Homo sapiens: one gene and its partner. The protein of the gene in region 2 interacts with the protein of the main gene of each other region in a biochemical or structural test. Each region holds a gene or a part of one and is shown on either strand. Other genes may lie near its edges.

Region 1 (10,706 bases), on a different chromosome or scaffold from region 2:
GCTTAGTGCTAGGCATATTATGGGTGCTCACTAAATAATTATTTTACTTTTTTAGCACAGATTCCTTTTCACCCCCAAAAGGCAAGGCTAATGTCTTGTTCAGCTCACACCACCTTGTGTCTGACACAAAGGAGGCCCTTAATATTTGTTGAATGTATGACTGTGCTTTAGGGGTTCCAAGAAGAATGGGTGTGAGGTGAAAGAGTTGAGAAAAGCATCAACCTCCAAGTTGAACAAAGAAAGTTCTATAAGGAACAGAGAGTAGTGATTTCCTATGGGATGAATTTTCTGTGCTATTGTTAAGAAAGGGAACAGGGCCATTTATATGTTACCACTTGCAGGAGTTGGATGGAGAGATAAAGGGGGCATTGATAGAGAGCAATGGGGTCTTTAAAAAGTGAGAAATCCCTAGGAGTACTCAGAGTGCTGATATCTAAGTGCACTGGCTATGCCTCGGATACATGTGGTTTTTTTTTTTTTCCAGCAGAACTGTGTCTAACCTGCTGGCAAAGAGCAACAATTCACTTGTAGCATGGAAGAAAGCTGCTGAAAATCAAAGGAAAGCAGCAGGCACAAACCTATAAGCAAGTCCCACTTTTCCATCCTCTAGACAGAAAACCTGGGAAGAGAACACATTAAATTCTGCTCTGCAGTTTTCTGGGAGAAGATGATTCCATTGTAAATTATTGAACATTTCATTTAAGCTTCATAAATAAGAAACTGGGATGAAAATGTTACATGTTAGATCTGTTTGGCAACGTATAATTTCTGTCTTACTCCCTCCATCTGTCACCCTTCATCTATGTTGGAGAATTTCTACTTCATTATAGGCAATTGAAGGTCTTAATCAGTTGCCTGATAAAAGTAGTTTATGTCCCAAAGGTAATCTCATTTCTGCAACCAAGGATGTACCTGGAACTCACTGAACATATTGATGGAGATAAATGTGTGCTTCAAATGGATCAGGGGGTATTGCAATCACCCACTCAATCTAGAGATAGGTACTTGGCCCAGCCAGGGAGAAGGTCCTCACTGCCACCTGGACTCCCTGAATCACTGGTTTCCAACAGAGCCAACAGGCTAAGCCCCAGCAAACCAATAACAAGAAGTCAACAGGTGCACCCAGGACCGGCCTGTACTTGCCTGGGGCGGTTTTTGTAGTTGATGAGACCACTCACCAAAAAAAAAAAAAAAAAAAAAAAAAAAAAAAGTACTCAAAATCCAGGAATAGTTCTCTGTGCAAAGTAATAAAATACTAGCTACTACCGCTAAGATCCAGGCACTGGACTTTAAACACTTTGACTCATATAATCCTCATGATGACCCTCTGATATAGATGCTGTTTTTATTCTCATTCTTCAGAAATTGAGGTTCATAGATGTTAAGTAATCAAAATTACACAGGTAAAAAGTGAAAGAGACCAAATATAGATATGTCAGACGTCAAAGTCTGTCAAACTTCAAAGTTTACCTCCACTGGTGTTGCCACTTTAGAGAAAGAAAGAATTAAGGGTTGGGAAAGAAAGGGAGCTGGTTTAAGAAGAGAAAAAAGAGGGCTGATTCGAATGCCTACCCAGACAGGGCTTCGGGACTGCATTCCTGGGAGAGAAACTGGCCTGGTAAGCTCTGCCATGCTTAAGCAACATTTATTGCATGGACTCCACAAAAGCCTACTGAGGAAGGGGATGAAGAACCCCCTGGCTGCCAGGCAGCATTCCTCTTGACCAAGCCAAGCCATTTGTTAAAGGAATGTTGCTCAAAGTATTTCCGATCAAAATCAGGGATTCCAGAGAAATCACAGCTGCCCTGAGCGGTGGAAGGAAGTAATAGGATGTCCCATTCCTCCTAAAAGCCCTGAACTCTGAGACCAGAATCCGGGGGGGCATCTCTAGCTGGTCACAGACTTACTCCGTGCCACAGTTTCTTTTTATAAAAAGATGATGTACTCTGTTGAATAACAGTCCCCTCAAAATGCATGTCCACCCCAAACCCTTATTTCCAAATAAGGTCTTTAGAGATGCAGTAGAGTTAAGATGAGGTCATACTGGATTAGGGTGGCCCCTAAATTCAATGTGACTGGTGTGTTTATAAGAAGAGGGGAAGACACAGACACACATGTGTCTACAGAGGCAGAGACTGGGGTGACGCAACTACAAGCCAAGGAATGCCAGGGAGTGCTGGCAACCACCAGAACCTAGGTCTCCTAGAGCCTTCAGAGGAAGCATGGTCCTGGCGACACCTTGATTTCGGACTTCCAGACTTCAGAACCGTGGGAGGACACATGTCTGTTTTAAGCCACACTGTGTGTGGTAATTTATAACAGCATCCACAGGAAGCTAATGTAGATGGAGAAAAGACTGCTTATCCCACCTTCCTCCCAAGGTTGTGATGAGACTCTAAAACACAATCCATTTTGAAAAGCACAGATGTTATATAAATACAGAATACCATTCCAATCAGCCATGAGCCCACACAAAGCCCCAAAAAGAGCCTACCGGAAGGACTCAGACTGACCACTGGAGGCCCTCAGGGTGATCACTTGATTTTGTTGGGTTTTTTTGTTTTGTTTTTGTTTACTTGTTTGTTTGTTTTTGTTTTTTTGATACAGAGTCTCACTCTGTCACCCAGGCTGGAGTGCAGTGGCATGATCTTGGCTCACTGCAACCTCAGCCTCCCAGGTTCAAGCGATTCTCCTGCCTCAGCCTCACAAATAGCTGGGACTACAGGTGCACACCACCACACCCGGCTAATTGTTGTAATTTTAGTAGAGATGGGTTTCACCATATTGGTCAGGCTGGTCTCGAACTCCTGACCTCAGATGATCCACCCGCCTTGGCCTCCCAAAGTGTTGGGATTACAGGCATGAGCCACCGTGCCCTGCCTTTGTTGGGTTTTTCTACAACCCCAGTCCTAATAGATAAAAATGAGTTTGATGCCAGTTGTAATAGATGAAATAGCCCTCAAAGAATCCCCAGCATCTGTGAATATAACCACCTTACAGGGCAAAAAGGACTTTGCAGGTGTGATTAAGTTAAAGATCTTGAGAAGGAGAGACTAGCCTGTACTATCCAGGTGGGACCAACATGATCGCAAGGATTTTCATAAGTGGATGTAGGGAGGTCAGAGTCAGAGTAGATGCAATGATAGGAGCAGAAGTCAGACAGAGAAAACAGATTTGATCGTTTCAAGCTTCTGGCTTTGAAGATAGATTAAGAGACCATGAACCAAAGAATGCAGGCAACCTCTAGAAGCTAGAAAAGGCAGGGAAATGGATTTTCTCCTAGAGCCTCCAGAAGGAAGGCAGCCCTGCTGAACTACTTTAGACTGCAGACCTCCTGAACTAACTGTAAGAGAATCCACTTTTGTTGTTGTAAGTCACTAAATTGTGGTGATGTGTTACAGCAGCAATAGGAAACTAGTACACCAGTCAAACCAGTTAGTCTGAAAATAAATGTGAAAGAGGTCAAGGAGAGAACCTAGAGAATTCCAGATATTCTAGGAGGTTCTCAGAGATCCTTTGTAGTAAACCTCCCAAAGGATTTCCTCAGAGAAGCTTACACCCTTTAGTGGGACAGTTTTTGTGTCTCCTCTGTCTTCCTGGACTCCCCTGAAAGTTATTCTAAAATTAGATCCACAGCTTTAGATACCCTGAGGCCTGAATTACTGAACTTGGCGGGGGGCCTACAGCAACAGGACTTCTGCATGCTCCTACTCGACAGCCCTGTGCTTAGAAAAAAAAGTCCATCCACTGTTCCTCCCTAGAAGGGACCCAGGAGTCCCCATATGGCCTCAGCTCCTGTAAAAGGTGTAGCTTGGTCCTTGTATATAACATTCAAGGAATGCTTTTCAGGTCTATGTCCACACTGTCTCTCTTGATTACATACTCCCGAAATTCACAATTTAAGCAAGAAATCCTCTCGCTGGTTCAAGCCAACCTGAGACGCTAAGCATACAAGGAGTCCTTGTATACTTATGTGAGCACACCTCTGAAGGTCACTGACAAGGCAGCCTCACTGCCTTCCCAGAGAGCCTGCCTGCAAGAAGGAAGCTCTGCGTGGGCTGGTTCATCCTATTGACTTGGGATTCCTAAATAGTGAAATTGGGATTTCTTAATAGTTCAAATTAGGAGAGGATTCAAGGAGGACTAAACACAAGATATGAATAGGAGTCTAAGATCATTTTCTTCCCACTTTCAGCCTTCCTAGCCCTGCCCCATACACAGAATAATGTTTGTTTCTCCATCCACTGATAGATCTGGTACCTGGCACTGAGTATGGAGTTGGAATATCTGCCGTCATGAACTCACAGCAAAGCGTGCCAGCCACCATGAATGCCAGGACTGGTGAGTAGGAGGACTGCTGAGGAAGAAGACCAGGTTAGCCTATAAGCCTAAGGAGTCATGGAGGCTCGTCCCAGCAAAAATTAATCAGAAAGCAATGTCTTCCAGTGAACAGGGCTCTGGTGACAACTGTCAGCCTAGAAACAACATCCACCCTATGCCTAATCCTTGATCTCTGACAGGCAGGACAGAGTCACCCTCTTCCCCACAGACCTGTGCTCGGTCCCCCGTGGTCTGAAGAGCTGCTCAGGGCTGTACAGAGCAGAGGTGGAAAATCCTAAATAGGTTGATGCCATTGCAGGCCATATTTTTATCTAGACCACCCCGACAGCAGGCAGAATGGGGCATCCTCGCCCTGCATACACCACAGAGGTCCTCACAAACGCCACTTGGGTGAAGGTCTAGACTTGCAACAACCCATTAAATCTGAGGGCAGAAGAAAAGTCCAGCTGAGACCCTTGCTGCTCTGGATTCAGCAGTTTTGCTTCCAAATCCTGGGTAAATTTCAAAGTCATTTCAGCACCTATGGTACTAGCAGCCTGGGCTGGGCTAGGGATTTTAGACCAGTCCTTGTCCCAAGGTTCAGCCTCTCTAGAGAACCACATGGACAAAAGTCTCCAGGTCCTCAGATCTAGCTGCCTGCCTGGCTATGGTTAGAACAAGTCAAAATAGCCTCAGGGTTGGAGGGTGGTGCGCTTCTGTTGCCAGGAATGGCATATCCCTACTTGGTGGTAGCTACCATTTTATCCTTATTGGCTCATTGAGAAAGGATGGGAGAAAATGAATATGGCGAGCTTGAAAATCAGCAGCCAGCTTTGTCCCAGAGGTGGATGCAATCCAGTGGTATCAGAGCTCATCACGGCTTTCTTCAGATTGTTCATCTATTTGCCAAGCCCCTGGCCATCATTCAGAGGGAAGGTACTTAGCAAAATATTAGATAAGTGTCAGCAATGACAAGCTAGTGCTCATAGTCAGCAGGCCTGCTGATAGCTTGGAAACACACAAAGCAGGCCAATAAATACTGCCCTCCAGGGGAACACATGTAAAATAGGCCATTTATGTCAATCCACAGAACTTGACAGTCCCCGAGACCTCATGGTGACAGCCTCCTCGGAGACCTCCATCTCCCTCATCTGGACCAAGGCCAGTGGCCCCATTGACCACTACCGAATTACCTTTACCCCATCCTCTGGGATTGCCTCAGAAGTCACCGTACCCAAGGACAGGACCTCATACACACTAACAGATCTAGAGCCTGGGGCAGAGTACATCATTTCCGTCACTGCTGAGAGGGGTCGGCAGCAGAGCTTGGAGTCCACTGTGGATGCTTTCACAGGTACCAGAGCAGCAGAAATCCCAGCCAGGTTCAGGGATCAGTGGATCTCAGTGTGAGAAATTCATTCAGGCAAGTCACTCTTCCAATGTTCCATTTCCTTTGGAGAAAAGAGAGGTGGGTAGAAAAGGATAGAGTAAAAACTAATAAGTGCATCAAGAGGGAAGGGTTGGAAGTAAAGAGGGGAGGTGAGCAATAGTGTTACCTGCCTGAAAACTTGTGTCTGGCTTTTCTATGGCCTTGACATAGTAGTTGATTCTGTCCATCTTTCCCTGCTGCAGTAAATCAGTGGGAATTCAGAGGATCCATGGGATCATATAAAATTCATTCCAGGATACAGGCTTTCAATCCTGGTTCAGTATTATGATTAACTCACAGAAGTAGTTCTCATTTTAACAGAATCCATTTTCCTATATTTGGATTGGAAAAAGTGGAGTGAACAGCACTGGAGGGTGAGGAGGTGGAATCTCTTGGTTAGTGGGTGAAGGTGTGGCCCTTATTAGCAAGGAGAGCAGGTCCCTTTAGCCAAGAAGTTCTTCTAGCCCAGTGACCCATCTCCTCACGTGTTTCAGGACCATCCATCTCCTTTGCTTTGCAGGCTTCCGTCCCATCTCTCATCTGCACTTTTCTCATGTGACCTCCTCCAGTGTGAACATCACTTGGAGTGATCCATCTCCCCCAGCAGACAGACTCATTCTTAACTACAGCCCCAGGGATGAGGAGGAAGAGATGATGGAGGTCTCCCTGGATGCCACCAAGAGGCATGCTGTCCTGATGGGCCTGCAACCAGCCACAGAGTATATTGTGAACCTTGTGGCTGTCCATGGCACAGTGACCTCTGAGCCCATTGTGGGCTCCATCACCACAGGTGAGGCTGGAGGACTTGGCAGCAGGTGATGAAAGGGGTTTTCACAGTAGCCTTTGACAAATCAATGAAATTTTAAAAGAGAAAGACCCAAGGAGTAGGGGATTTCCTCTATGGCTAGAGAAAGTCTGTGACCTGTTCTGAAACAGCTACTTCCTCCAGTGCTGCAGAAGATGCATTAGATAAGAAACTCCCACTTGGAAGGTGGGACAAAGTCAATGTCTTGAGGAGGTCAAAGCTTGAATGCATTTGTCCAAAAGACCTCCCACTACCAGCTTAGAAGAAAAGCACTGGAGAAAGCTAGTCTCCAAGAGGAATCCCTCTACAGTGAAGAGACACCTGTTCCTATTCTGAAGAACCATCTCTTAACTGCCCAGAAAGTTCACTCGTACAATAATGCTTCCTTAGTCTCACATGGGACTAGCATGCAATCAGGTAGTGACCTGGCACTCAGAGAATGGGGTTGATTTGGATGTTGCTTAGAAAACACAGGCACTCAGAGATGAATTGGATCAGTCCCAGCTCATTATTCCCAAACACAGTTTCAAATATGAGGTACATGTGGGTGAAGATATGTATGTTTGGGTAGTTTCCTCCTTACTAACAAGAACTCACAAACTGGACAAGTAGATTAAACACTTAGCTGATCAACTCTGTGATCCCCTAGCAGTAAAAAAAAAAAAAAGCCCATAGCATAAATGAAATACAATTTAGGAAAATGGATTTGTTCTGGACTTGTGCTCTGAAATCCCTGTATAGTCAATAGGCAGTTTTTCAAAACTGAAACCAAAGGTGGCTGCTAAAGAATAAGAGATACAGGCAAAATTTGGTTTATCTTAAAAAATTACCTCAGAGAAAATGCCTATGTTTCTCCCAATTCAAAACAAAACATATGAACTTAAAAAAAAAGTTCCTAGTTGGCTTGCAGATAGGTAACAGGTACAGAGCTTGCCAGCTTGTCTTCATGTTGTTAAAATATTCTCCATGAACATAGCTTTGGTCATACCTACAAGGTTTCAAGTGAAACATCAGCGTGACCATGGTTTTAAGATACCCTATTACATGGAAAGATCTTGTCTGCCTTTGGGACAACATTGGCTTTTGGTCAACATAAAACCAGGGATGAGAATTTCTTTTTCACACTGTGCTTTCTGTCTTTTTCCCACAATCACTGGGTCCTTGTAGGAATTGATCCCCCAAAAGACATCACAATTAGCAATGTGACCAAGGACTCAGTGATGGTCTCCTGGAGCCCTCCTGTTGCATCTTTCGATTACTACCGAGTATCATATCGACCCACCCAAGGTAACAAAGTGATTTGATTTCTCAAAGATACTAGGATTTGGGTGAAGATTATGGGAGAACTAGCATATCCCGCAGAACATCCACTCCTGCCTGCGTTTTTCCTCTTCTCTGTGGCATGCTGCATCAGAATGAGAGTGGGCTGGTGAGCAGCCAAGAAACCCCACACTCACCAATGCCTCTTGAGAAAGGCTTGATTACATTCACCCAGAGAGCAGGCCCTTCACTAGCAGAGGTAACTGATCACCATTATCTAGGCAGTGTCTTGAGAAAAAAAGAGCCCCAAAAGAATCTGCCAAGAGCTTGGGTCACATGAATATTCCTACAAGAATGAAGTTCAAGACTAGGATCCAGAGGGATGGCTAAAGACCCAGCAAAGCCAGATGGAGCCTTGGAGGGAAGCACAGTGATGTGGTCCCATTTCAGCCACTCCAGACAAGTTATGAGTCAGAGGAAACTGGCCCAGACCTCACCTGCATCCTGCCAGTTCTTGCTGGTACATGTGGCATTTTTAAGGAAGTGGAGGGCACACTCACTTCCAGTGAGGACACAGGACAGCATTCCAGACTACACTGTCTCTGGACTGTGGGGACTGCTCCTTGCATCGGTGCCCTCTACACTGCCTTAATGTCATTGTCTTAGAGAAGACCAGCTTGTTAGAAAACCACTTAATAGGTAGGTCATTTTTCTTTGCTCCAAGGAGCCCATAAAATGAAGGAGTGAGACCAGTGTGCAAAGCCTCTTCACACTCCAACATTCCCAGCCCATGAACCATGTATCATCCCTCCCCACTGAGTGCGGAGTCCCACACCCATCTGTGCTTTATTGACATAGACTGTACCATGGGCTGCTTGGATGAAAGGGCTGCTGAATTTTAACTGTAGATTCTTCTCTTCTCCAGTGGGACGACTAGACAGCTCAGTGGTGCCCAACACTGTGACAGAATTCACCATCACCAGACTGAACCCAGCTACCGAATACGAAATCAGCCTCAACAGCGTGCGGGGCAGGGAGGAAAGCGAGCGCATCTGTACTCTTGTGCACACAGGTGGGAATGTCTCCCTGCTGTGTCAAGTCAGAACCCTGGCTGAAGATCTGGGTGAAGTTGTTCGGGCTTGTAGAAAGGTTCTGGAGGCTAAGGCTCCATTTCGGGGTGCTCCTCCAACTCACTGTGTCTTGCAGGGCAATTTGCAATTTCTCTCCCCCAATATTCCTCCCTAATACTAAACGTTTAGAGAGTCACCCTCTAGAAGTCTTGCTGGTTTAGGTTAGGAATTTTCATGGAACTTCCAACATAAACAGTGCCCTTTCAGACATATAATGGAAGTGAATTCTAAAACAGATATCTGAATCATTCATCTGATTTTGTAAAAGACTCAGATGAGAAAATTTCACCTCGAGAAGAAAAGGGTTGTTATTCCAGTAATGGAATGGGGTCATGAAATTCATCATCAGATATAGCCAGAAACCACCAAGAAGGTGCCTTTGCTCTTGCTTTGTGCTCCAGGGAGAAAGAAGGCACCAAAGTGGCCATAACTCCCTCACCCGGGACCAAAGCAGTGAAGGTGATGTGGCTCCGTGTGCATCCTGGGCTGCCTGCAGGGGCACCGTGTAGCTCATGTCTCTGACAGGCCCCCTAGTCAGATCCAGATGTCTTCTGCATCCTCCATCAGCTCCTACATAATGACCAGAGGAAGGGAGGTGCAAGGGAGAGACTGGCTTGCAATATGGGAAAGTGAGGAAAGGTAGTCCAAATCCCATGGCCTCCCTCTTGAAAACAAGCCCACGCAATGGGGCTGAAGAGAAGGCTCCTTTGCTAGCACCACTGCTCCTCCGTCTCTGGCCCCTCAGCAAGTACACCAGGCAGAACATGCAAAGATTCGCTGCAGAACTCACTAGCAGGCACAGCCAAAGTGTTCTATTCCCATACCCTAGACCAAACCTCCTAGTTAAGCCATCATTCCCACAGCACGTGGGAAAACATCCAGCTTGCCTCATTAGGAGAACACCTGGATTTTCTACAGTTGCTTAATTTCACTGGAGAATGGTATTTCCCAAATGAGGGAAATATACTTTAGAATTCCTTACTGCTTTCGTAGATGTTCTCGGAAGCTCAGAAACAGCATCTCTAAGGCAATGGGCCAAGAAATATTCCTTCACAAACACAAAAATTATTCTTCTAAAGACAGCGCAGGATATTCTGATCCTCCCTAGTCTCCTTCCAGGCTTATGACAACAGATAACACAGCCATTCAGTTTTGCCCTATCTATTAAATTACCTGTGACCATTAAAATATCAACAAGTGTTGGCCAGAAGTGAGGTCCAATACACCAAAAGAAGCCTCTATCCCACCTTCTTGAACCAAGAAATTCATATTAAAGAAATTAGCCTTTTTCCCATTGAGGACAATAAAATGTATTTCAAGAGCCTCCTATCCCCAAGATAAAAGAGACCAGCAACTTCAATCAAAAACTCATTTCTTTAGCCAGGCATGGATGCATGCACCTGTAGTCTCAGCTACCAGGGAGGCTGAGGCAGAAGGATCGCTTGAATCCAGGAGTCCAAGGCTACAGTGAGCCATGATCATGCCACTGCATGCCAGCCTGAGTGACAGAGCAAGACCTTGTCTCTCAAAAGAAAAAAAAATCCTTGGGTCATGAGCAGCTAGTATCTCTAAAGCAGATATTTGGTACACCAACCCAAATGGTATGCCCATCCAAACTGCCCTCCTTTAAGTCTAGGCAGAGCTATTTTAGCAACTTCCAATAACTAGATTGCCCCAGAATGTCTTATTTTGCTGTTGTATGTTTGTTGTGGTTTTACGTTGAGGTCTATGATCTTACAACTTTTGGAAGTGAGTGCTCCTT
Region 2 (11,070 bases):
CTAGCAGCAAGCACCTCAGTCTCCAGTGGTGACAACAAAAAATGTCTCCAGACATGGCCAAATGTTCCCCGGGGAAGGAGGGCAAAATAGCCCCAGGTGACAGCCACTGCTGTATAGAAATGAGGGGTCAGGTTCAGGTTGGTTACAGTCCGTCTTCCCCATTAGACTGTAAGTAGGTGGAGGGCAGGAAGAGTGAGTTGATTTATTCACTGCTATGTTATCCATGCCTAGCACAGTGCCTGGCATGTAGCAAGTGCTGCTGAAAGAATGAATGAATGATCTCTGGGAACACGACATATTCTGTGATGAGAACCTGAAGGTCTAGATCCCAGTCCAGATTCTTACCAACCTGCTCTGGGGCAGCAGCCTGGGGCATATCCTTCCCCTCTTTGGGCCTAGGTCCCTTTTGCGATCTCTTAAATGAGGACCATCACAGGCCTGGAAGGCCCTGGGCATCTGTGATCTGGGGACTGCCAGAGACCAGGGAGCTGAGGGAGGCTGTCTCCCAGGTCAGGCATTGCAGATCTGCCATGTCCTGTGTTTCTCCTTCTTACCCTCACCCCTCCAGTCAAATCAATTACAGAAAGACAGGCACCCCCGCCCCCACATACACCAAAATAGTGACCTACACAGAAGAGGTGGCTCCTTTTTTGAGTGTGTATCTTAAGAGGAAAAACATGTAACCTCAAAGGTAACCAAATATCCAAATCGTGATGCCCAGCATCACACACCCCAAATCCACCTATTCATGAGTTTAACAAAAAGCTTCTTTAGGATACACTGTAAGGCCATTGAGAGGGAGAGAAGTCACCTCTCACAGGCCTGGCCAGCCCGCAGGGCCCGCCCTGCCAGCATGCACACACACACACACACACACACACACACACACACACACTCCACCACTTATAAGGAGGCTCTGAGTTTTTAAAAGTAAACTCCACCGTTTCCGTTCTTGCCCTGGATTCAACTTTTGAAAAAAGAAACCGTTTTACCGTTTTCTCTACAAATTCCCCCTCTCTGGTCCTCCTCTCGCCTGCACTCCCGCTCCTTCTCCAGCCCTCCCCTTGTTCTGCCGGCCTCCCAGTGGCCCTTCTTCAACTGCGTCCAGGGGCCCAGACTCCCTCGCAGGGATGGCTGTGTCCTGTTGGATCTGGGGGAAGGGGAGCTGCCACTCCCAAAGTAGCTGTCACAGAAACGGGCCCTTCATCCCATTGAAGGGGCTTCCTTTAAGTTATCAGGGCGGCAGTGCGGCTACCATCAGGACACGAAGCATGGCCACGAGGCCAGGCCGTTGACAGCAGGAGAGGAAGGCTCCTGTTCCCAAGATGTGCTCCTGATCCCCTTTCCCAGGGCAGCTGCTGGCCTGTCCCCTCCCCTGCTCTACTTATAAGCAGACCTTCCTCCATGCCCTGCTTCCTCTCTGACTCTGGGTCCTCTTCCTTGAACTTGCCTTTCCCCAACTCCAGCTTCCACCTCAGCTGCCTTGACTCCCCAGCACTTGGTGCAGTGGCAGCAAGGATGCCCCAGCACCTGCCACCTAGGGCCACAATGCTGAAATTTCTGAGACAGAAACATCATTGGGACCAATATAGTAAAAAAAAAATTAAATAAAAATATATGCAAATATCAAATTTGTATATATTTGCATATATACATTTATATTATAAACATACATACCCTTATAGAGGGCTTCAAAATAAATAACAGAAACAAAAGTTTCCAGAAACAGTACTTACCTTTGCTACATAGGAGGCACTATGAGATTATCTGGTATTTCCTATTTTATTAAGAACCCCGCTAAATTGATCTCACAACCTGCAGTTGGACAAATCTGGTGCTAGACATCCCTGCAGCAGCAGAGACAGACTCAAAGTGGGACTCTAGGCAGGGTCTCATGGGCTTCCTTTGGCTCAGCTGAGGTCCTCCTAAGGGCCCAATAAGAAGGGTCTTGGGAGGAACCCAGTTCTAGAAGGAATCATTAAAAAGAAATTCACTGGCTGGGCATGGTGGCTCACGCCTGAATCCTAGCATTTTGGGAGGCTGAGGCAGGCGATCACCTGAGGTCAGAAGTTCGAGACCAGCCTGGCCAACATGGTGAAATCTCGTCTGTACTACAAATACAAAAATTAGCCGGGCGTGGTGGTACACAAGTAACCCCAGCTACTTGGGAGGCTGAGGCACAAGAATCACTTGAACCTGGGAGGCGGAGGTTGCAGTGAGCCAACATTGGGCCACTGCACTCTAGCCTGGATAACAGAGCAAGACTCCCATCTTAAAAAAAAAAAAAAAATTCACACCAAAAGTTAGGACACACAGTCTCTTATCAAGAGAAAACATTTGAAATTTTTGCTATCCATAACTTGGGGTTTGTGACCCACAAGGGGGCTTAGGAGCTGTTAGAGGAGAGGAATTAAAGTTTGTGGTGCTTGCTGAGAGCTGGACAAGGCACCCACTTTATGTCTTTTAATCTTCACAAAAATCTCTTATCGGAGGATTTTCTCCCCTTTTTAGAGAAGAGGAAATGAAGCCTCTGGGAGGCTCAGTACCCTTATCAAAGCCATGTAGCCAGCGAGTGGCTGAGCTGGAATTTGAATCCCAGTCTTCCTTGCATGCAGGCTGTCCACCCTCCTGGCTCTTGCCGACTGTCTCAGGAGGTGAGCTCTCTCTTGGAGCTCCCTCTCTAATTGGGGAGGGGGCATAAGAGGAGGAGAACGCTCTGCCTTGGCATGCAGGGGTGAGTGGCTGCCTGGGATTGGGCGTGTGGGTGTGAGAGAGATGGGGAACAGGGGCAAGAGGTGTGCCTGGGTGTGTGGAGGGCTTCCGAACATTAAACAAAATATTCCCTTTTAAGTATGATTGTCAGTGAATATTCTAGAAAAAGAAAAACATTCATTTACTACTAGAATTAAGAATGATAATAGTAATATTAATAATATGAAACAGTTACTGAGTACTTGCCCAGTGCCAGGCACTACGCTAAGCCCTTTGCTTGGGTCATCTCATATCTGCTGTTTATTGAGTACCCGCTGTGGGCCAGCATTGAGCACAGAGCCTGGCACCTAGGTGGCGCTCAGCAGATATTGGAGAATGAATGAAAATACCAGGCACAGCACTAGAAACTACACGTAAGAATATCTAAATTAAACACAGCTCAAGGTAACCTGTGGAATTCCAGCATCTCTCCAAGAGATATCTTCTTCCTTTGGACAATTCCTTCTTCTGAAACTTTTTATACTGGGGAGATCTACTATTCTGCAATCTTTCTTTCAGGTTAGAACCTCTCCTCCCCACTGCCGCTCAATGCTTCCTCCCCCAACGAGCTTCAGGGTTTTCTTCCCCATTGCCTTTCCATTTCCTGCAGTTTCTCCCTGGAGCCTGTGATTGACAAGCCAACACTCCTAAACCGTATCTTCATAGTGCCTCCAAACCCACCTTGCCCAGGGTGCATGAGCAACCTGATTGCTCCTTGTCCATGGCAACCCAGGACAAGAAAGAGAGATAAGGATTAGAACCCAAGAATTCTGGACTCTTAAATCAGGACGAGGGACCGACTATGGCCTCAGAAAACCTGGATTCTAGTTCTGCCCTTGACCCTAAGTCACAGTTCAACCTTCAGAAATTCATTGCACCTTTCTGGGTCCACTTGCCCTCCTCTTCAGACGAGGTGGGTGAATTTTCAAGGTCCAGAGTCCCCTCTAAACTGTCAGACACCCACCCACTGCAGCACCCAGGACCCCAAAACACCGTGCTAACCCAATTCAGCTTTGTATTTTCCTCCTGGCAGCCAGCCCCACAGAACCAGAATTTACACATCAGTCAACATGCTGGAACTCCAGCTTCTTCATGGTGAAACCCTAGTAGGATCCTGTCAGAACCCAGCTCATGACTGAAAGGAGGATAATGATGGAAAAGTTTGGGTTGGATCCTGTCTCACAACCAGAGACAAGCCCCCACCCCCGCAGCTTGCTCTGCCCAGAGTGTGGTTCAGTTGACATACTGACAGCCTCCAACCCAGCCCCAGGGTTGGAAAGGGCTCCTGCTCCACCAGCATTGGCTTCGTTTGAAGAGGAACCCACAGACGGAAAAACCGCTCGTGGTCGTGTGTCCTCAACTCCCCTCCCCTTTCTTCCTTGAGAAATGCCCCTTCTTGGTTGGACACCCGTGTGTTCAGGGCACTGCTCTCCTCTCCCCTGCTGGCAGTTCAGTAGCTCTGTCCCAGGTTCTGCCACTCTCCCCTGGGCAGACTCTTCAGGCACTCTGGTCCCTGGAGTAAGCCAAGTGGCCAAGGATGGACTATCTAGCCTCGGCTTAGGACCCGCTGTGTCCCTGACATAGTGTCCATATGATTTCATTTATTCTTCCAGACCCCGCGAAGGCCTTTTCCCTCTCAGCTGACAGACGGCAGGCCAAGGCTCAGGAAGGTGAAGCACACCTTCCAGCTCAAAAGTAGCACCTCGGGGATTTGAACCCACATTCCCTTGACTCTGAAGCTGCTACTCTGTCAACCATGGGTCTTTCCAGACCCTAGGATTTAAAATCACCTAGGTGTTTGGAGAAAAGGCTCCCTTGTTCCTTCATCCTGGCGGACTAGGAGACAAGTGCCCCTCCTCACGTGTTCCTTTGCCCCATTCACTGAGTCTGCAACAGCCAAAAAGTTTGCTCAACTCCACCGCGGACGCAGCCGGTGGATGTGCTGCGCCCCCGGCACACATAGCTCTAGGGCGGAGACCAAGGCAGTGCAGCCCCCAGCCCCGGGGCGTGCAGTCTCAGTCCCGTTCCTGGCTCGCCGGGCGCCCTGGGAGAGCCTCGCTCTGGAGGGAAGGAGACAGTTACCTTGAAGAGTTGGACTCCCTTCTCCAAGAACTTCAGTCCCACACACCTGGCGAGGCAGCTGGGGGCTCCTGGGGCCGGGAGGCCCGGGTCTCGCTGCGTAGCGAGGGAGACGCTCTGCGCGGGCGCTGCGCACCCCTCCTCCTGCCGGCGTCCTGTCCGCAGGTCCCCTCGGGCTGTGGCCGCAGCGGCAACTGCTGGGTTGCGGAGTCCTGGCTGGCTGAGGGAATGGACACTGAAAGGTGCCCGGAGACCCTGGCACCCGCGTCAGACGCCGGCCGGCGAGGGTGCTGAGAGAGAGAGACCTTGAGCAGCGCTGCGCGCGTCCTCAGCTCTGCGAGCCCCCTCTGGAGCGGCGGGGAGGTAGGTGGGCGGGCGGGCGGGCATGGCGCGCTGTGACACATACATAGGGACGGGCGGGGGAGGGGAGGGCCCGTGAGGGGTGGGGGCGGGAGGGGGCGAGCGCAAAGGGAAACCCCACCCCCAGGGACCGAGGGGCGGCCGACAGGGGGAGGGGAAGGCAGAGGCGTCTGGAGCGCGCTGGACCCTGGCTCCGGACCGGCGCGCCGATGGGGAAGCCGGCCTGCGCTCAGGGCGGGAGAGGAGCGCTCCCCGGGGCGGCGCGGACCCGGCAGCTCCGGGGCTGGCGGGAGGAAGGCGGCGCGAGAAGGGCTGGAGGGCCCGCATCTGCATTGCGGTCGGCAGCTCCGCAGTCGGAGGGGCCCAGGAGGGCTGCACCCTCAGAGAATCCCCAAGTGCCCGGACTCTGAGGCCGCCGCGGCGGGACAGGGCTCCCGGGCGCCCGGCGGGGTTCTGCAGCTGAGGCTGGCCACGACGCGATCTAAGGAGGGTGCAGCCCGCTACTGTCGGCCACGATTTGGAACGACCCTCACCGAGGAGCTGGCTGAAAGTTTTTTTGGGGGTGGCGTACACCGGGATGGCAGGGGATGGTGGAGAGGGGGAGGTAAGGCGTCAGCGGGGAGGCTCACGGGGAGCTGCGAGTCTCTGGGTCTTCAAATTCCCCGGGAGAGACCAAGGACATCTCATATGAAGCAGGAATTCTCCAGTGTCTCTACAGTACTCTTTAATACCGTTTTCAGGAAAAGGAGAAAAAGAACTAGCAGCTTTTGAATCCCTCCTATGAGCCCGTTGTGTAACATACATTAACATTTCATTTAATTTTTCCAAAGAGCCCAACAAGGTAAATATGGCAACTTCCCACCTGCCCCTAACCAAAGATGTGAAAACTGAGGCTCAGAAAGTGGTGGAGATCCCTCTTGAAGGTGGGACTGAGTTCGAGTCCCAGGTCTTGTGCTCTCTGCTACACAGGCTGCTGGTTGAGCCACAGCACCTTCGGAGGACTCAAGCTGGCTGGTGACCTTCAGAGTTCTTGTGGAGGAAGCTGGTGGTGCTTCACACCAGGATGTGGTGGCCACAGTCAGGATGGTGGTGGAAGCTTCCTGACCCTCTCATTGGGCAAGAAGAGGAAGAAGTGGAATCTTTCGGGACTCCCCACTACAGAGATAATAGACCACACTTTAATCAGTTCCTTGATGAAAAGGAACTGAAGTGCCTCGGTTTCCCCAGGGCGACTCCACTGGAATTATGTGGTTATTTTACTGGCCATCTCTGCCTGGGGGCGGGACTGGCCCTGGCCCAGCACATGCTCTGTGAGCCGCCTGTCTCTCCCCTGTCCAGGGCAGTGAAGCCCCGTCGGAGGGAGCATAGTGCCCACTCTATCCACCCACCTCTCAGAGCAATGGCTAAAGTGTTCCAGTGGTTGGCCATTCTTGATTTCACCCTTTTTCTACCTGAGCGTATTGAGTCAGGTCTGTAAGTCTTGAAGCATTTAGGACACAGACAAAATGCTGGTGACCGAAGCCCCTTAGGGGGTGATAGTGGCTTCTCTCACAGATAAAGAAATGAGATGAGGCCGGGCGCAGTGGCTCACGCCTGTAATCCCAGCACTTTGGGAGGCCGAGGCGGGCGGATCACGAGGTCAGGAGATGGAGACCATCCTGGCTAACACGGTGAAACCCCATCTCTACTAAAAATACAAAAAAATTAGCCGGGCGTGGCGGCGGGCGCCTGTAGTCCCAGCTACTCAGGAGGCTGAGGCAGGAGAATGGCGTGAACCCGGGAGGCGGAGCTTGCAGTGAGCTGAGACGGCGCCACTGCACTCCAGGCTGGGCGACAGAGCAAGACTCCGTCTCAAAAAAAAAAAAAGAGATGAAATCTTAATAGTTACTGGCCTCAATGCCTGGAACAGGGAGAAATGACCCTCTGGGAAAAAAACAGTCCCTGAAATTCCAACGAGGTCATGGATTCTCATGCCTGTGTTTACCTGATGCCTTGTGGGAGAACAAATTGCTCTCATTTGTAAAATGGGTTCATGTCAACATTCATCCTAGGGCAGGTGGGGTTAATGAAGAACAAGTCAAGGGCAAATATTAATTAGGCGATTTATCTTTGTATTGAAGGGAACAAATGTTTATTGATCATCTGGTTTTGTAATGAGTCTAAGAAACATATATTGGGCACCTATTATGTGTCAGATGCTGCTTGGTACAGCAGCCTCTCAGATGGATGCCATTCCCATTTACACACTAAGAAACCAAGACTCAGAGGCCATCAAGGTAGTGAATGGGATTGGAGTACAGGCTGGTATGAATTCACACTCCCTAGCCCTAAAGGATACAAAAAACCCAGGATAATGGCAACGCATTTGGACACTTTAAAGACAGTATTCAGAGAGTCAAAGGACATGCGTGTCAGAAGGCCCTTGGTGGCATACACAGGCTCTTCCTGTCCAACTCAGGAGCTCTGTTCCAGTGTAATATTTCTGAAGCTGGTCATCTCCTCTTCTGCTAGAATACTTTACAGTTGCCTAATGCCTTTTCCAGGCTGCCCGATGCAGTCTGCTGTAAACTGGCAATTTCTAACCTCTTGCTGCTCAGAGTATGTTCTATAGACTGGCAGTGTCACCTGGAAGCTTATTCAAAATGCAGAATGCCAGGTTCCCCAGACCTACTGACTCACAATCTGCATTTTAACAAGATCCCTCCCGTGTTGTATATGCCTGCTGAAGTTTGAGAAGCACTGTGCTGACATCATTCAGCAGGTTCTACTCATTCAATCACAAATCACAGAATAAGAGAATCTCAGAGCTGGGAAGAGCTCTTGGAGAACTTTAAGGACACCCCTCCATAGAGTATGTCAGTCCTGTCCATGATGTTTCCCTCAAGTAGGACATCAGACTCTGCTTGGATGTGGCCATGAGTTTGACTCCCTTCTGAGGCCACATCCATTTTTTTCACGTGGTTCTTGTATTTAGGCAGCTTTCAGCTTTCACAGAAGCTCATGCCCAATACTGTGGATTCAGCAGTGAACAAGACAGGCCCATTTCCATCCCCCCAACCCTAACCTGTCCCAGGACCTCCTGCCACGTGATAAACCTTTCTGTTTGGAATCAGTGATCTCAAGTCTCTCCCTTCTCCCTTTTGGATTGGGTCCAGAGGAGAGCTCACCTCAATAACCTGGGTCCTGTGCTTCTGGTAATGCAGCCAACATTTATGTGCTTTTATGACAGCCTCATCATGACTCATTTGGAGCCTGCAGCCAGCTCAGACTTCCTTTTCACAGTGCTTCTGCCACCTAGCATCTCCTTTGGCTTATCCTGGTACAATGGGTTTTTCCAATCCAAGTGTGGGGCTTCATTTTTGCTTCTTTTAAACATTACACTAACTAATTCAGTTTACTACTTCAGATCATCTTGGATTCTGACTCTATTATTCTGTGTGTTTGCCATTCCTCTTAGCAGCAGACATTCTACAAAGCTAACTAGTGTGCCACTTCTATGTTTTCATTCAGGCTGCTCATAAAAATATTGCCTGGGACGGAGATTAGGGCTGAGTTCTAGAGCAGAGCACTAGAGACAGCCCCCCTGGAATGAACGACATAATCCGATATTCCAGTTATAATGGCTGTGTAACAAATCACCTCAAAACTGAGTGTCTTAAAACAATAGTTATTTAATATCTCTCATGGTTTCTATGGATCGGGAATTTGGGAGAAACTTCGCCAGGCAGTTCTGGCCTGGACTAGCTCTTGAAGTTGTAGTCAGATGTCAGTTACAGCTGCAGTTAGCTGAAAGCTTGACTGGGGCTTGAGGATCCATGTCCAAGGTGGGTCGCTCACGTGATTGGTGAATTGGTGCTGGCTGCTGGCCAGTGACCTCATTTCATCTCCATAGGGCCTCCCGATGGAGCTGCTTGAGTGTCCTCATGACATGGCAGCTGGCTTCCACCACAGTGAGTGACACAGGGAGTGCAGTGCTTCTGTGTCATAGCTTTGGAAGTCCCACACAGGGCCAGCCCTGAACTAGTGTGGGAGGGTCATACAGGATGTGAATACCAGGGGATGGGGATCACTGGGGGCATCTTGGAGGCTGGCTTCTACACTCCATTAAACTAACTCATAGAGCATGGCCAGTCCCCCCATCCATCTGACTGTATTACCATGGAGTGCTTATTTCTGTCCCATACATGGGGACACCATGAAGGTACCTTGCTAAGTCCCAATATAAGGTGCTTGCAGAATTCCTCTGAAGCATTCATTCCAAACTCTTTTACAAGTGAGTGGCCCAATTCTGCTCTCTAGAGCAACACAGTCTGCCCCCATTTCAACAGGGGCAGCCTCCAGTTAGTGCAGGAGGGTTCTCACATCACCCTTCATGTCTCTCCTCACAGGGTCTTTGACTGTTTCCCAAGGGAGTGTTCTTCTGGAGTTTGCTTCTGGATTCCTCACTCTCTGCGAACCTTGTTTGTGGATGCCCCTCAAAAATGCAATGCCCGGCATTAGATGCACAAGCCCAGGTGTGGACTGATTAGAGGGGAGCCAGGACAACTCTTTTCTCTAACCATTTGGATATTCTGCTCCTACCGGTATGGCCAAACATCGTTGAGTTTCAGAACTACATCTCACTGTTGCTTGATATTTAATCTTGCAGGCAATTAAAATGAAGACTGTTTCCATGCGGGCCCCCGTGAAAGGGATTCCTGTGTATCTCAAGCAACAAAGAGAGCTGTGGAGCAAGGAGATTCCCTGTGTAATCGGGAGCACTGGATGTGAATCCCAGGTCTGGCATGGGAACCTTGGGTGAGTTTCTTAACCTCTCTGGATTTTGGTTTCACATCTGTAAAATGGAGCTATCTTATGGAATTGTTGTGAGAATTAAAATAAGATATGGAATGTCAGCCCCTAGTAACTGATCTGGCTCAAAGTGCAAGGATGGTTAATTTTCTTCCTTCCCCCTAGCCCCCACAATTTGGTGTGCCTGAGTAAGTACATTCTCTCCTGTGTGCTGTTTTCTGTGTTTGTAAAAGAAGCTAAAAATACCCACCTCATAGGAGTGTGGCAACAATGAATACTATATGTAATATGTGTAGAGAACGTTGTGATCCTTTTTGGAAGCAAAGGGCCATAGAAACATGATATAGAAAAGCCTTCTTATAGCAGAACTGGGCCAGGGAGTGGAGTCTAGTGAGAACTAGTGGAACACTTGAAAAGTGCTGTTTTATTACTTTAACACTGTACTAGTGGCAAAGTAGGAGGGAAATGTTATAATAAAGAACATGGAGACAGTTAATGAAACACTCACAAGCCTCCACGGGTCTGTGTGGAATAATGACATACAGTAACGGGAAAGTGCTGTGTCACCAAAGACATAGAAATTGAAGGGCACGTTTAAGGAAACTCTCTTAAAGCTTCAGTTTCAATTTTTTTTTTCTGAATTCATAGCAGATTCTTATTTTTAGTAAAACCCTACCATTTATAAAAGAGGAAATTATGGCAAGCATTTTATTCATTACTCACTAGTGTTTTTTTTTTTATCATTGAGAATACTCAGTGAGTGATGCTGAGTGGAATGTTACGTATCACCATCATCATCAGCATCCATCCCACCACCATCATCACAACCACCACCACCACCATCATCATCATCATCATCATCAACAGCTTTTTCCAAGCAAGTCTGGAATAAGAAGAGAAGTCGGAGGATTTAGGCTTTGTACTTCCTGGCAGCCCCAGCCCCTGAGGCTCATGCGATCCTGCTCACCTTCTCTCCCTGACCCCGAACCCTAAGGGGCTCCCGCACTCCAGATCGTAGCTGGCTCTTCTCTATTCTTTTCCTTATTCCAGCCATTAGAGTCTTTTGGGACTGGCTTCTCAACCTTTGTC

What was found.
Region 1: the proteins of ACAN (region 2) and TNR form a complex in vitro, tested with the Homo sapiens proteins (one study listed by BioGRID).

What each region holds. Positions count from the first base shown.
Region 1 is NC_000001.11:175,360,843-175,371,548, reverse strand, and holds part of TNR (tenascin-R isoform 1 precursor), read left to right. Parts: intron 1-4,251; coding exon 4,252-4,341; intron 4,342-5,410; coding exon 5,411-5,674; intron 5,675-6,269; coding exon 6,270-6,539; intron 6,540-7,721; coding exon 7,722-7,841; intron 7,842-8,739; coding exon 8,740-8,886; intron 8,887-10,706. UniProt on the Homo sapiens protein: Neural extracellular matrix (ECM) protein involved in interactions with different cells and matrix components.
Region 2 is NC_000015.10:88,797,573-88,808,642, reverse strand, and holds the start of ACAN (aggrecan core protein isoform 3 precursor), read right to left. Parts: upstream 5,208-11,070; 5' UTR 4,834-5,207; intron 1-4,833. UniProt on the Homo sapiens protein: This proteoglycan is a major component of extracellular matrix of cartilagenous tissues. A major function of this protein is to resist compression in cartilage. It binds avidly to hyaluronic acid via an N-terminal globular region.